Homo sapiens: one gene and its partners. The protein of the gene in region 3 purifies or fractionates together with the protein of the main gene of each other region. This does not show direct contact. Each region holds a gene or a part of one and is shown on either strand. Other genes may lie near its edges.

Region 1 (3,689 bases), on a different chromosome or scaffold from region 3:
TACCATCAATATTCAATAGTCAGATGGGTGTGGAAAACAGTTTTAAGAAACTAAATGAAAATCTGCTCTCAGAGCTAATACCTTTGTACCTTGTACAGGCATGAAGGTATTATCAATAGGCAAGCGAGATTGCTGTTAGTGATTCCACCACTAGCCATTTTATAAATTCTATAAATCTTCATTTCATATTCATTCTGACATTTAATTTTCTGTTCTATGGATTTTTTGGTTAGCACAGGTCTACATAACCATTTGAATCATCAAATACAACTGAGGCAACTTGCCTCTGTTATTCTTTATAGCCAGGACTACTTAAATTGTTGCTGCGTTCAGTAAAACAATTGCTAAATGCCACCAGAAATTTGAAAGCCGGAGATCCTTTAAATGTTGCCTTCCTATGTTCAAATTTCCAGGTGCCTGTTTGCGGGAGCATGGGCTGCCTTGTCTGCCTGTCTTCCTGAACGGAAACACTAAATGTTTCTAGACTACCCTGTTTGCTTACATAGCCAAGTAATGCATTATTCATCTTACCTGCCACAATGCAAAAGCTATTTTTGCAAAGGGAATGTAATTTCGTTCTCTTCTTTCTTATAGTTTACTTCCTAGAAAAAGGCCTGGGTGGTGTAGTGGCCTTGAAAAAAAGGTGGTTAACCATTGGCACCTTATTACATTTGTCATGGGTTTCACATAATTTTCACGTATCCACCCACATCTAGATACTGAGTTGTGACTTTGTCATCCTCAACAGAATACTAAGTATAGATTGCTAAATCATTGGTGTACATTTTTTATTACTCATCTTGTTTCTTTTTACAGAATTCAACAAGTCCACCACTTAAGCTCTCAAATGTGGAACGGATTACAAATGTACAAATTTTGATTTTATTTTGTATCTTAATTGCCATGTCTCTTGTCTGTTCTGTGGGCTCAGCCATTTGGAATCGAAGGCATTCTGGAAAAGACTGGTATCTCAATCTAAACTGTAAGCAATAAAGTGCTTACTGCACTTTTTTAGATTAAGACATGTATTTGTTTCACAATTGATCTTGATTTACTTTATTTCGTATTGTTTCTAAAAAGACCTTGTTGCCAAGATAGCTGGACATTTGATCTTTATTTTTCAGTGAGATTTCTAGCAAGTGTAAGTAAAATTTGGGAATCCTAAAATTTCAGAATCCTTAAAAACATAATGAGCACTCTATAGTGGTATAAAATGTTCACTAAGTATAGTCATTTATTATATATATCAACGAAAACTATTCCTTAAAAATATTTTTAACATAGGTGGTTAACTATATGGTAAAGAAAGTAGATTGACCATGTGTGGATATAACAAAACATATATATTTAAATATATATTGTATGTATTTATAAATATATAAAATATTTTAAATATATTTAAATAATATAAATATTTAAATATATTTTATCTTAAATAAAATATACTTTGTTTATATTTTATTTAAATAAAAGTACCAAAAAGTGGTTTATATGGTTTAAAAATGTTTAAACCCAATGTATTTTCATTTGAACTCAGTAATGTGGTAAGTCCTATATTAAATGTTATCTTAGAGAAGGTGCTAGTAAATAGTTTTCCTTTAGAGCATTTATCCTTTTATTATTGTGATATTAATGTACCACCCCTGGATATTTCTGTCAAATGAGTTTACATTTTCATTTCATGAGTACTTAGCCAATAAAGACTTAACTTCCAAAAGTGTGAAAGCAAATTCTAGTACAATCACATAGCAAAAACTGGTATTTTTAAATTTTTTTTATTATATTGATTTATCTTTGCAGCAATTCCAAGTTGTTTTTATAGTTACTGATTTATTATTTCAGTATCAGAACTGTTACTACCATCAGTCTGTTTCTTTGTATACTTTATAATTGTATCTGGTATAGCAGTTTTATTTTCATTTTGAGGAAGAAGAGTATAATGTACCTAGGAGAATAATTTACCTAGGACTGAATATTACTCATATAGTTTGGATTGTTTTTGCTGCTGCTGTCTTGTTTGCTTTTAAAGTATGCTTTAAATTGGAAATACTCTTAAGAATTTATATAAAAGTGATTCTACCCAATTGAGATTTTATATTTATAAACCCTCAGTGCTATCCCTGATGTCTCTAAACTTTGTGTTTGGAAGAGGGTTTGCAATATTTGACAGTCCTTTCACTGTCTTAGTACTTTTATACAGCTCTTACCTGGATTAACAACATATTGAACACAATGCAATTCTATCTTGAAGGATGTACTTGAGAATTAGGATAGATTATCAGCAAAGTGTTCCTCCCAAATTATCAAATAAGCTGCGTAGTATGGAAAACTTGTATTATGCTAATTTGGGGTCAATGCAAATAAAATATAAAACTGTAAATGACGTTCTTCCTGCCTCTCCCAACAGATGGTGGCGCTAGTAATTTTGGACTGAATTTCTTGACCTTCATCATCCTTTTCAACAATCTCATTCCTATCAGCTTATTGGTTACATTAGAAGTTGTGAAATTTACCCAGGCATACTTCATAAATTGGGTAAATATGAATTATGATTGTTATCACCCTACAAAATAATTTTGTCCTTAGGATATTTTGATATCTCAGGAGAAAAAAGGTTTTAATTATATCTACCGTTTCTTGACCACAGTATCAGATTTTTGAACCTAATTTGTTGCAAAGTTCCTCATCTCAGAATCACACAAGTTTACAGGCCAGACATTGTAGGGAAAATGGGTCTCTAGTTCAGGAAACCTATGGTGGTCGTGGGAGATGGAGAACCATGAGTTTGGAGTTAAGTGTCTGAATTATGGTTCTAGTATTATAATTTACTAGGTGTATCAACTTTCTCAAGTCACTTATTTTGAAACTTATTTTCTTGAACACAATCATAGGGATAATATGCCTTACCTACATCTTACAGTGGTTTTATGGACTAAGGAATCTCTTGACATAGCAAAGAGCTTTGAAAATAATCAATCACTATACAAATAATACTGTAATTCTTACTGATATCAACCAGATTATCATGTTATATCATGTTATTTTCTACACTGTAAACAATTTTAGCTTCACTTGAATTTTTCTTCATAATTTTTCTCTTGAATATTGTTAAATATTAGAAAAATGTTGGACATCTACTTTCTAAATGTTTTTAAATGTCTTAGTTTTATTTTTATTAAAGTTAAAATTAATGAATTTATCTAAATTAAATCTGTGGGCCTAATCTGCCAGAAAATTTAATTTTTCTTTTATTTTGAGAAACTTTGTGTTATTTTTGATGTTTCTTTCTTTTTCAATCATTGTAAAGTCTTTCAATATGAACAATATTAGGGTTTCGAAAAATATGACATACTTTTGTAACTGCTCATTATCTTCTTGTAGCGAATTATCTACCTAAACTGTCAATCTCTTAATTCATTGGTAAGAAATCAGTGTGATTTAGAAATCTAAAATGAGCTGCAGGTGTAGCTCACTTCATGCAGGAGATATATGGCTGAAAAATTACGTAATAGGATATGTACAAATATAAGTAAGACTTATTGAAGTTTCTTATAGCAATAATAGGGTAACTCATTGTGAGAATCACATAAGTAAGCTAGATAATCACTTTGTTGTTTTGATTTTCAAAAATAATATCTTTCAAAGAATTATATAATTTTAGTATTGGATGAACCCAGCAGGCTTATGCT
Region 2 (3,689 bases), on a different chromosome or scaffold from region 3:
TTAATTTACTTTTCAAAATTACAGAGAACTGTGCTTTCCAAGAGGAATATTAATTCTTTAAAACAGCAGTATTCTTCCTCATATTGGCAGTGGATACTCACAAAATGCGATTGCCTAGTTCACATGGTTCTTTGCTAAATAATTATGTACACAAACTTTTATTTCAGTGAATTTGGGTGGTTTGAAGGATCACATAAAGGAGATCCAGAGATGCCGGCGTTTGATTCTTATTGCTTGTGGAACAAGTTACCATGCTGGTGTAGCAGTAAGTGCTTTTTAAAATTTTAATTATGTTGAATATTAGAGAATATCTGTAGACCAAGTAGTAGTCTAATAACATACTGTGTAAAACTATGTTTTGTTAATGTGTTATCTTTTCCCTTTTGTGATAAAAAAAGAAGGTAAGGGGAGAAATTTACCAGCTGCTTGGAATTATTTATCCATGGAAGATCTGTAGAAAAGGTCCCTAGATATACAGATAGACCTCCTGCAACGGACTTCATGAAAGGCCAAGAGGGGGAGAGTTTGTGTACTGTCCTAGACTTGTAGCCTAGGGAGCTTGCCTACATGTGTAAGAGCCATCGTTGGGTTTTGCTTAGCATTGTTCACTTGCCCTAGACAGATGGCCTGCATCATGTGTGAACCTCAGTGCAATTTTACTTTGTGGGCACATTACTGCAAAGAAAGGTAGTCTGCTTTTTTTTTTAAATCAGATTTTATTCTTTAAATTGTTCTTTTAGAAGCTGAAATTCAGTATCAAAAATGTGTATTGTCAGTGCAGAAGCATAGGTGTATGAGGGTCTTTTATTCCAATAAAAGACCAATATTTGCCCACGTAGTTTCCTTAGAAAGAGACAGTTTATGTGTTGCTGATGTCAACTGTTATGAACAGAAGACCTTTACATTCAATTTCTGCTTTTAGGATTGACTTCCAAAGTTCCTGACATAACTTATTTATTTGCTGAGGCATAAATATTTATTAGGAGCCATTTATTTAAGCAGTGAGTGAAACTATCTGGTCACCTGCCCTTGCATCTCAACAAGCTTTGCTCTTTTCTAAGACTACACCAAATACCTCCTCCCCTCCTCCCCCAAAATTATATGGTCCTAAACAGAAAGTCTATGTAATGTTGAAGGGTAGAGGTCTAAAAAAGTGATTGTTTTGTCTGGGTGTTGTGGCTCACACCTGTAATCCCAGCACTTTGGGAGGGCAAAGTGGGAGGATCAGTTGACCCTAGGAGTTTGAGCCTGGGCAACATAGCGAGACCCCGTCTCTACCAAAAAAAAAAAATTATCGGGGTGTGGTGGCAACTCCCTGTAGTCCTAGCTACTTGGGAGGCTGAGGCAGGAGGATCGCTTGAGTCCAGAAGGTGAGGCTGCAGTGAGCCTAGATTGCACCGCTGAACTCCAACCTGGGCGACAAAACCAGGCCCTGTCTCAAAAAAAAAAAAAAATTTTGAACACGGGAAGAAGAAAGATGTAAACACGTTAGTGGTGGCTTAGATCTATTACTGAATGAGCCCTGTATTCAGAAATAGAAAATTTGATTAAACGCTTCATCTAACGCTAAGACAATTTGGGGGCAGAAATTATATACTCTGTTAGAATTCTCTAATGTAAGATTTTTTGTTGTTTTGTGGATGCCAAGACTACTGTAGTAAACAAACATTAGAAATCCCCCTGTGGTTTATCAGACAAAATAGTACCATTTATTTTATCCTGTTTTACATTTTTGTTGTTGTTTCATGACACATTTACATGTTTTTTTTTTAGTATCTATATCCTGAATAACTGACTACACTCTAATCATTCTTAACTCATTTATGCCAGAGGTTGCAAAATTTTTTTGTGAAAAATCATCAGACCTTGGTGCTGACCTTGAGCAGTAGGATATAAATAACTCCCACATGCTTAACGTTCCAGTGATGGAACACTAGGCATAAATGATTTAAGTATAGCCTACTTAATATGCTTTTCAAAATTTTAATTTTCTCTAGGTTTTGTAGTGGCATTCAGTGGAATTTATAGCATTAAGTTACTCTATTGTGATGGAAATATGTCATTTTGTGTATTTATAAAAAGTTGTTCGCAGCTGGGTGCAGTGGTGTGTGCCTATAGTTCCAGCTCCTCGGAAGCTGGGGCAGGAGGATCACTTGAGACCAGGAATTTGAGGCCACAGTGCCCTAGAATCATGCCTCTGAATAGCTGCTACACTCCAGCCTGGGCAACAAACCAAGACCCCATCTTTAACCAAAAAAAAAAAAAAAAAAAAAAAAGTTGCCCCAACTAAAATAATAAACTATTAATTAGCACAGATAAATCTTGAGATTACTTTTTTGGGGTTTATTACTTTTAAATATCTGGTAAGCCTCCAGATTTCTATCTTTCTCTCTTCTTTCCCCATCTTTTTATTTTGAAGAATATGATTCCAATGTAACATTTATATTATAAACTGGGTGAAAAGGTTTGGTTTACATTTATTTGTGGGAAAACATTTAGCATTTTAGTGTCGGTAACTTAATTATGTATAATAAAATATATTAATGGAAAAGAATAATAAAAAATAGGAGCATTTTATCTTCAATGATTTTCTTTACATGATGTTGTAATATTGTTAAAAAATGCCAAATCAAAGTTATTTAATATTTTTGGGGGAACCAAGTAAAACGATTCTGTTCAAATTTGTGGGCAAGCAAAAGTTAAGGGCTATGAAATAAGGGCACCTTTAAGTTCTTTATTGCTGAGAAGGAGGAAAGCTGAGATGGGTGAGAGATGGGGAGGGCCACTTGCCTGAAGAGGCTGGTGAAAGGCTGTCAGGTTAGGTGAGCTCCACAGTTAGAATTAAAGCAACACTAAATGTATACATTGGTTGAGCTTAAAGTTTTTGCTGCCTAAAAGATAATTTTTCTGTTTTTGATTTTCCGATGTTTAGTGTAAAAATAATTAGAATGGAAATTTACTGAAATGAAGGTTAAACTACGTTTTGCACAGAGGCATACTGCTCCCTACTTCATTCCCCCTGCCCCATGCCACAAAAGTTGAAAATAGTGAGCCCTGTTAAACAAGATTTCTAAAATATATTGACTTCTTTTGGGAAATGGTCATATTTATGAATACGTTGTACTTTTAAAGTGTTTAATTTTTCTCTATATATTTGTACATCTGTTACCTGATTTGAAACCCCTCCCTAACATGGGTATTACATGAATTTTCATTTTAAAGATTAGGAATTGGGAGGTTAGAGATAACACACAAGCTGACTCAGAACCATGCTCTTTCCACTTCTCAAAACGTTTTATATGTGTGGGTATGTTTCCTTATAAGAATGTATGTGTCCAGGCGCAGTGGCTCATGCCTGTAATCCCAGCACTTTGGGAGGCTGAGGCGAGCAGATCATGAGGTCAGGAGATTGAGACCATCCTGGCCAACATGGTGAAACCCCATCTCTACTAAGCTGGGCATGGTGGCGCACGCCTATAGTCCCAGCTACTCAGGAGGCTGAGGCAGGAGAATTGCTTGAACCCGGGAGGCGGAGGTTACGGTGAGCCGAGATGGCACCACTGCACTCCAGCCTGGCGACAGAGCGAGACTCCGTCTCAAAAAAAAAAAAAAAAGGAATGTATACATAGATAGTTGTCTAAAGAGACTGATAGTAAAATGTTAGCCATGCTTATCTCAAGTGGTAGGAT
Region 3 (4,245 bases):
AAAATTAACCATCACACCAGATCTGCTGAATCTGAATCTACATTTTAAAAGGATTTGCCAGGTGACTCTGCATAATCCAGTTTGAAAATTGCATTTTTCTACAACCCTTAGAGAGTGTAAAAATCTACATGGTAATTCAGTAACTCAGAAACAAGGCTTGATTTGCTGCTTTAACTTGAGAACTTTTCTAGCATTTACTGATCTGGAGGTAGGGATGCCTACAGAAATCCTCGCCCTCCCTTCTAGGTAAAGGACCCTCCCCTTTGTTCTCACGTGAACCTCACTAAGCTTCTAACCTGGTTTACTGAATTAGTGGCTTGTGGGTCTTCCCTGTCTACACCAAACTCTCCGAGAGCATCTACATCTTATTTTCTACCTCCACAGAGACAGCCTTTATTGGCGGATCCAGATCTGCCCTGCCAAGGCAAGCTGGGTTTTCCTAGTTTCACTTTCAGAGTCCGCAAATGCTAGCACAATCTATCCAAATTCTATCGTGGAGATAAAGCATGCACACATACATCAGAGGATTCCATAGGTCGAACCATATGAAACTACCTATGTTGATTACTTTTACCTATAAAACCAGCAACATCATAGGACTCAACAAATTTCCATTGCTGTTTTTCCGCCTAAAAGCTATTTTAGGACCAGGAGCAGTGGCTCACGCCTGTAATCCCAGCACTTTGGGAGGCCGAGGAGGATTGCTTGAGCCCAGGAGTTCGAAACCAGCTTGGGCAATATAATAAGACCAAGCCTCTACAAAAATAAAAAGTAGAAACAAAATTAGCCAGATGTGGTGGCATGCTCCTGTAGTCCCAGCTACTTGGGGGAGCTGAAGAGAATCGCTTGAGTCCAGGAGTTGGAGGTTGCAGTGAGCTGCGATTGCGCCACTGCATTCCAGCTTGGGCAACAGAGCAAGACCCTGCCTGGGAGAAAAAAAAAAAAAAAAAAAAGCTATTTTAGGGACAATATGCCGCCACAGTCACGAGGTAAATATGCCGCCACAGTCACGAGGTAGATCGTACAAAGGTTGCTAACAGTATGGCAACTGACCGCTAACAAGCGAATGTCAAGTTGTGAAATGCACACCACCCACTTCCCTAGTTCGGTCGAAGCCCTCCCCTTAATTATGTGCAATTCAAGTCCCCACTGCCCGCCCGCAAGCCCCCACTCATCCTCGCTGCGGGCAGGGTGGCCCCTGCACTTTACAAGGGGGTGCAGGAGCGGGAGACGGTCGTCCGAACACCGGCTCCCCGGCATGCGTAGACCGGCGGGCGGAGCGGGCTCACTTTGCGCCAATCCTACGAGAACTCCCAGAACTCCGCTTCCCTAGTCCAACCCAAGCCAGAGTTGCCCACACCTAAGATGGCGGCGGGGGCGGAGTCGGCGCGGCCGCCTCTGGGCGGGACCGCGGGGACTAGACGTGGCCGCGGGGCGGTGTCATCGCCCCCGCCCCGCCCGGTCCAGCCAGCTCGGCCCGGGGGCTTCGGGCTGTCGGGCCGGCGCTCCCTTCTCTGCCAGGTGGCGAGTACACCTGCTCACGTAGGCGTCATGAGGTCTCCGGTTCGAGACCTGGCCCGGAACGATGGCGAGGAGAGCACGGACCGCACGCCTCTTCTACCGGGCGCCCCACGGGCCGAAGCCGGTAAGCGGCGGGGTCGTCCAGGGGCTTCGAGTGGGCAGCGGTACCGGGGGCGGCGGTCTCTGGGCCGGCATGGCCCGGGTACCCGCACCCTGCGCCGGCGGGACCGGAGCTGCTCAGGCGCGAGGGGACATTAAGAGGGGAGCCCGTTCAGAGTGCCGCTCAGTCCCGCCTGCCTCGGTGCGCAGAAGCCCCTCGGGAACCCCGGGGGCCGCGACCGTGATCGCGGAGCCGAGCCGGGGCCTCGGCAGGTGCAGCCCCACCGGGCGGGGGCGGGGGCGGGGGCGGGGGCGGGGGAGCGGCGGTGCAGCCGGCGCTGAGCTGGTGGTTATTTTGGGTAGTGCTGAGCAAGGGACCCAGTGGAAGAACGAACTGGGAGAGAATCATCAAATGAATGGGCTAAGGTCCGAGCGGAGGACCCCGGTGTAAGAGCAAACTGGAGGAGAAACCTGCAGATCAGTAGGCAGAGGGCTGTCCTTCCCTGTCACCGCTAGGTTTCCGCCACTGCGTATCCGCCAGCATGTGACCTGGTAGCTTCTTAGGCGGGGAGGGAAGACAAAAAAGGACTGGAGTTAACATTTGTGAGTATGCAGAGGGCAACTATTGTATAACCCAGCTGATATCTTGACATTGTGCAGTAAGAGACTAAAAACATCGAGGACATTTTTTTTCCGTCTGGCAGTCTATGATTTAAGTTAGGAAAAGGTTCAGTTATCCTCAAGATACCTATGGAGTTCTAAAGTAATTTGCCAAAGGTCTTGGAACAAATCGAAAAGCAGGTACGTCATAAAGCATCTTCCCTGAATTTGAGAAAATTAAAATATTTTGCTATTTGACACTTTTGTAATATAGTTTATTTAAAAGTAACGAAAACTAAAGAACAAATCAGTTTGAATGCATTCTATAGTTTCAAAGATCTGTGCGTGAGAAAGAGTTGTGTTGGAAATTTGACTTTGGCTAACCCAGAATTGTATAGTTTCTATATTTTTATTTGTTTTTAATGTTACCAGATGGTGGCAGTAGAGGTGGCAACCTTATAGCTCCATCTGGCAGCCGGGAGCTTATTTTAGTCAACACAAACTGTAAATACCATACCATAGTTACGTTTTACCTGGAAGTCGGACTTAGTTCCATAAACTGATCATTTTCTGTGGCTTGTAGTGTTCAAATTGTATAATATTCCTCATAAAATAATATAGAAATACAGAAATAAAAGTTATAATAAAGATATTTGCCAGAGATTATTACATTGTTACAATTGAAAAATATGTATATGTATAATCAAAATTTAGCACAAATGTTAAACATTATTCTCAGGAAAATGCAGATTAAAATTACAACGAGGCACTATACACCCACTAGAATAGCTAAAATCCAAAAGGCTGATAATACCAAATGTTAGCAGAGATGTGGATAGAAAAGTTATACATCTCAATAAAGATTGAGATGGACAAATGTATACATTTATCACGTAAATTATACTTCAATAAAGTTGATTTTTAAAAAAGTAGCTTATAGCATCCCTTTTAAAAACAATCCCTACTTGATTCATGTGTTGAGTGTATGGATCTTATGGTACTGGCCCTGTCCTTCCTGGCTTTAGGTGGCTACGTTTGTTACAACCATTTCCTTTTTTATTTTCCCTCTTTACATACCCACTGGAGAGCAAGTGAAGTGGAAATAATAGTAACATACTGTTTTTGCTATTTAGAATATGATAAGTTTTATAGAGAAGGAGCATATATGGCAATTAAGAGAAGTATATAATGAGCCCCCATGTAACCAGCACCCAGATTAAAGTTATCAATTCATGGCCAGTCTTGCCTTATGCTCATACATACTGTGTATTTTGAAGCAAATCCCAGATACCATGTCATTTCATATGTAAATATTTCAATTATTTACCTCTAAAAGATAAGGACTCTTTTTAACATAACTACAGTACTATTATCACAGCAAATAAAAATAATGCTTACTCACTTTGGGAGGCCGAGGCGGGCGGATCACCTGAGGTCAGCAGACCGAGACCATCCCGGCTAACAAGGTGAAACGCCTGAAACGCCGTCCCTACTAAAAATACAAAAAATTAGCCGGGTGTGGTGGCGGGTGCCTGTAGTCCCAGCTATTCGGGAGGCTGAGGCAGGAGAATGGCGTGAACCTGGGAGGCGGAGCTTGCAGTGAGCCGAGATCACGCCCCTGCACTCCAGCCTGGGTGACAAGAGCAAGACTTCGTCTCAAAAAATAATAATAATAAAATAATAATAATACTTACAAAATACTCAGTGTTCATATTTCCTCAATTATGTCCTGATTTTTTTTTTTTTTTTTTTTTTTTGAGACGGAGTTTTGCTCTGTCGCCCAGGCTGGAGTGCAGTGGTGCGATCTCGGCTCACTGCAGCCTCAGCCTCCCCGGTTCAAGTGATTCTCCTGCCTCAGCCTCCCGAGTAGCTGGGATTACAGGCCTACGCCACCACACCCAGCTAATTTTTGTATTTTTAGTAGAGACGGAGTTTCACCATGTTGGCAAGGCTGGTCTCTAACTTCTGACCTCAGGTGATCCACCCGCCTTGGCCTCCCAAAGTGCTGGGATTACAGGCCTGAGC
Region 4 (2,581 bases), on a different chromosome or scaffold from region 3:
CGGTTGTGTCTTGTTGGGAGTAAGTGCCTTGCGTGGGAATAAACTTCCACAGCATTCGAATATTTTAATGAAGCCCTTAGTCAGGGTCCTGGTGTTGGCCTTTTTGGTTTTCTCTTTTCAGGCTGTTTAACTTAGGCACAGGAGATCCACTTTTAAACTTGGGAAATAAGCACCTGTATTTTTTTCCAAAACTGTTTTTAAAGCTGTATACGCATACATATATATATTTTTACTCTGTCTTACTCTGTCACCCAGGCTAGAGTGCAGTGGCGCGATCTCAGCTCACTGCAGCCTTGACCTCCTGGGTTCCAGTGATTCTCATGCCTCATCCTCCCAAGTAGCTGGAACTACAGGTGTGCACCACCATGCCTGGTTCATTTTTGTGTTTTTAGTAGAGATGGGGTTTTACCATATTGCCCAGGCTGGTCTTCTGGCTTCTGGATATCGCCCACCTTGGCCTCCCAAAGTGCTGGGATTACAGGGATGAGCCACCGTGCCTGGCTGGGTATTTATATTATCATTCTAGTTTCAGAGTATACAGAAGTTTCATCCCATCATTTGGAAAAATAAAGGCATCTGAAGTACAATATTACTTATAGAAATAGTTTATATTCCTATTAAATCTTAATCTTGTGGCATCAGGGAAATATTTGTTACATAGTAGGCAATTTTTATCCAGTACTTTATAGATTCAACTCTAAGTTGCAAGCGAAGTCAAAACTGATGAAAATTTATTTAGAAAAATCTAAAAATTCTGGTTTTAAATATGAGAATCAGTGGAAAATAAGGGTATAATTTTGTAGGTCATATGATTGAAGAAAATATTATTTTAACAATGTAAAGCAATATGATTTGTTACTATAATTAACCTGTATAAAAGATACATTTTATGGTGGTTTCAGTAGGTCATTTTAAAAACCAATGTGCATTAGTTTTCAAGTATAAGGTTTAAGTAATTTGGTTTAATAATCAGAAAATATTCAATACAGTGTTGGATATTCTGTCATGCACTATTTTTCAGTTGACAATTTCTGTATTTTAATTGAATACTGTTTCTTCAGTCATGGTTATTGCACTTTATCCTGAATAATAATTCAGAAATTGGGTTTTGGTTCAGTGATTCTCAAGAAAAAGATCTCTTGCCCATTAAGAAGTGTATCAAAATCTCATAAGGAATGAGGGAGAGAAGGGGGCTGTAGAGTTTGAAAAAGCATATTCAATATTAAAATAGTTTTATATTTGGGAAGGCAAAAATGAATCTATTGTTTTGCAATATAGGTTATAAACAGGCAAAATGCAATAAAATATATATCTGGTTGTATTAGTCTGTTTTCACGCTGCTGATAAAGACATACCTGAGACCAGGAAGAAAAAGAGGTTTAATTGGACTTACAGTTCCACATGACTGGGGAGGCCTCAGAATCATGGTGGGAGGCAAAAAGCACTTCTTACATGGCGGCAGCAAGAGAAAATGAGAAAGAAGCAAAAGTGGAAACCCCTAATAAACCTATCAGATCTTGTGAGACTTACTATCACGAGAATAGCACAGGAAAGACTGGCCCCCATGATTCAATTACCTCCCCCGGGTCCCTCCCACAACACATGGGAATTCTGAGAGATACCATTTAAGTTGAGATTTCAGTGGGGACACAGCCAAACCATATCATTCTACCCCTGGCACCTCCAAATCTCATGTCCTCACATTTCAAAACCAATCATGCCTTCCCAACAGTCCCCCAAAGTCTTAACTCATTTCAGCATTAACCCAAAAGTCCGCAGTCCAAAGTTTCATCTGAGACAAGGCAAGTCCCTTCCACTTATGAACCTGTAAAATCAAAAGTAAACTAGTTACTTCCTAGATACAATGGGGGTACAGGTATTGGGTAAATACAGCCATTCCAAATGGGAGAAATTGGCCAACACAAAAGGGTAACAGGGCCCATGCAAGTCCAAAATTCAGCAGGGCAGTCAAATTTTAAACCTCCAAAATGATCACCTTTGACTCCACGTCTCACAATCATCTCTCTCAAGTTCGAAGTTCCACAAATCTCTAAGGCAAGGGAAAGATGCTGCCAGTCTCTTTGCTAAAACACAGCAAGAGTCACCTTTACTCCAGTTCCCAAAAAGTTTTTCATCTCCATCTGAGACCACCTCAGCCTGAATTTTATTGTCAATATTGCTATCAGCATTTTGGGCAAAGCCATTCAGCAAGTATCTAGGAAGTTCCAAACTTTCCCACATTTTCCTGTCTTCTTCTGAGCCCTTCAAACTGTTCCAACCTCTGCCTGTTACCCAGTTCCAAACTTGCTTTCATATTTTTGGCTATCTTTTCAGCAATGCCCCACTCTACTGTTAGCAGTTTACTGTATTAGTCTGTTTTCACACTGCTGATAAAGACATTCCTCAAGATTGTGAAGAAAAAGAGGTTTAATTGGACTTACAGTTCCACATGGCCGGGGAGGCCTCAGAATCATGGCGGGAGGTGAAAAGCACTTCGTACATGGTGGTGGCAAGAGAAAATGAAGAAGAAGCAAAAGTGGAAACCCCTGATAAACCCATCAGATCTCATGAGACTTACTAT

Evidence for each region.
Region 1: the proteins of SLC17A5 (region 3) and ATP8A1 purify together in Homo sapiens (affinity purification with mass spectrometry; one large-scale study listed by BioGRID and IntAct). This does not show direct contact.
Region 2: the proteins of SLC17A5 (region 3) and GFPT1 purify together in Homo sapiens (affinity purification with mass spectrometry; one large-scale study listed by BioGRID and IntAct). This does not show direct contact.
Region 4: the proteins of SLC17A5 (region 3) and ACADSB purify together in Homo sapiens (affinity purification with mass spectrometry; one large-scale study listed by BioGRID and IntAct). This does not show direct contact.

What each region holds. Positions count from the first base shown.
Region 1 is NC_000004.12:42,577,106-42,580,794, reverse strand, and holds part of ATP8A1 (phospholipid-transporting ATPase IA), read left to right. Parts: intron 1-816; coding exon 817-982; intron 983-2,407; coding exon 2,408-2,535; intron 2,536-3,689. UniProt on the Homo sapiens protein: Catalytic component of a P4-ATPase flippase complex which catalyzes the hydrolysis of ATP coupled to the transport of aminophospholipids from the outer to the inner leaflet of various membranes and ensures the maintenance of asymmetric distribution of phospholipids.
Region 2 is NC_000002.12:69,338,728-69,342,416, reverse strand, and holds part of GFPT1 (glutamine--fructose-6-phosphate aminotransferase [isomerizing] 1), read left to right. Parts: intron 1-167; coding exon 168-265; intron 266-3,689.
Region 3 is NC_000006.12:73,651,193-73,655,437, reverse strand, and holds the start of SLC17A5 (sialin), read left to right. Parts: upstream 1-1,445; 5' UTR 1,446-1,551; coding exon 1,552-1,645; intron 1,646-4,245. UniProt on the Homo sapiens protein: Multifunctional anion transporter that operates via two distinct transport mechanisms, namely proton-coupled anion cotransport and membrane potential-dependent anion transport.
Region 4 is NC_000010.11:123,053,817-123,056,397, forward strand, and holds part of ACADSB (short/branched chain specific acyl-CoA dehydrogenase, mitochondrial isoform 1 precursor), read left to right. Parts: 3' UTR 1-2,581. UniProt on the Homo sapiens protein: Short and branched chain specific acyl-CoA dehydrogenase that catalyzes the removal of one hydrogen from C-2 and C-3 of the fatty acyl-CoA thioester, resulting in the formation of trans-2-enoyl-CoA.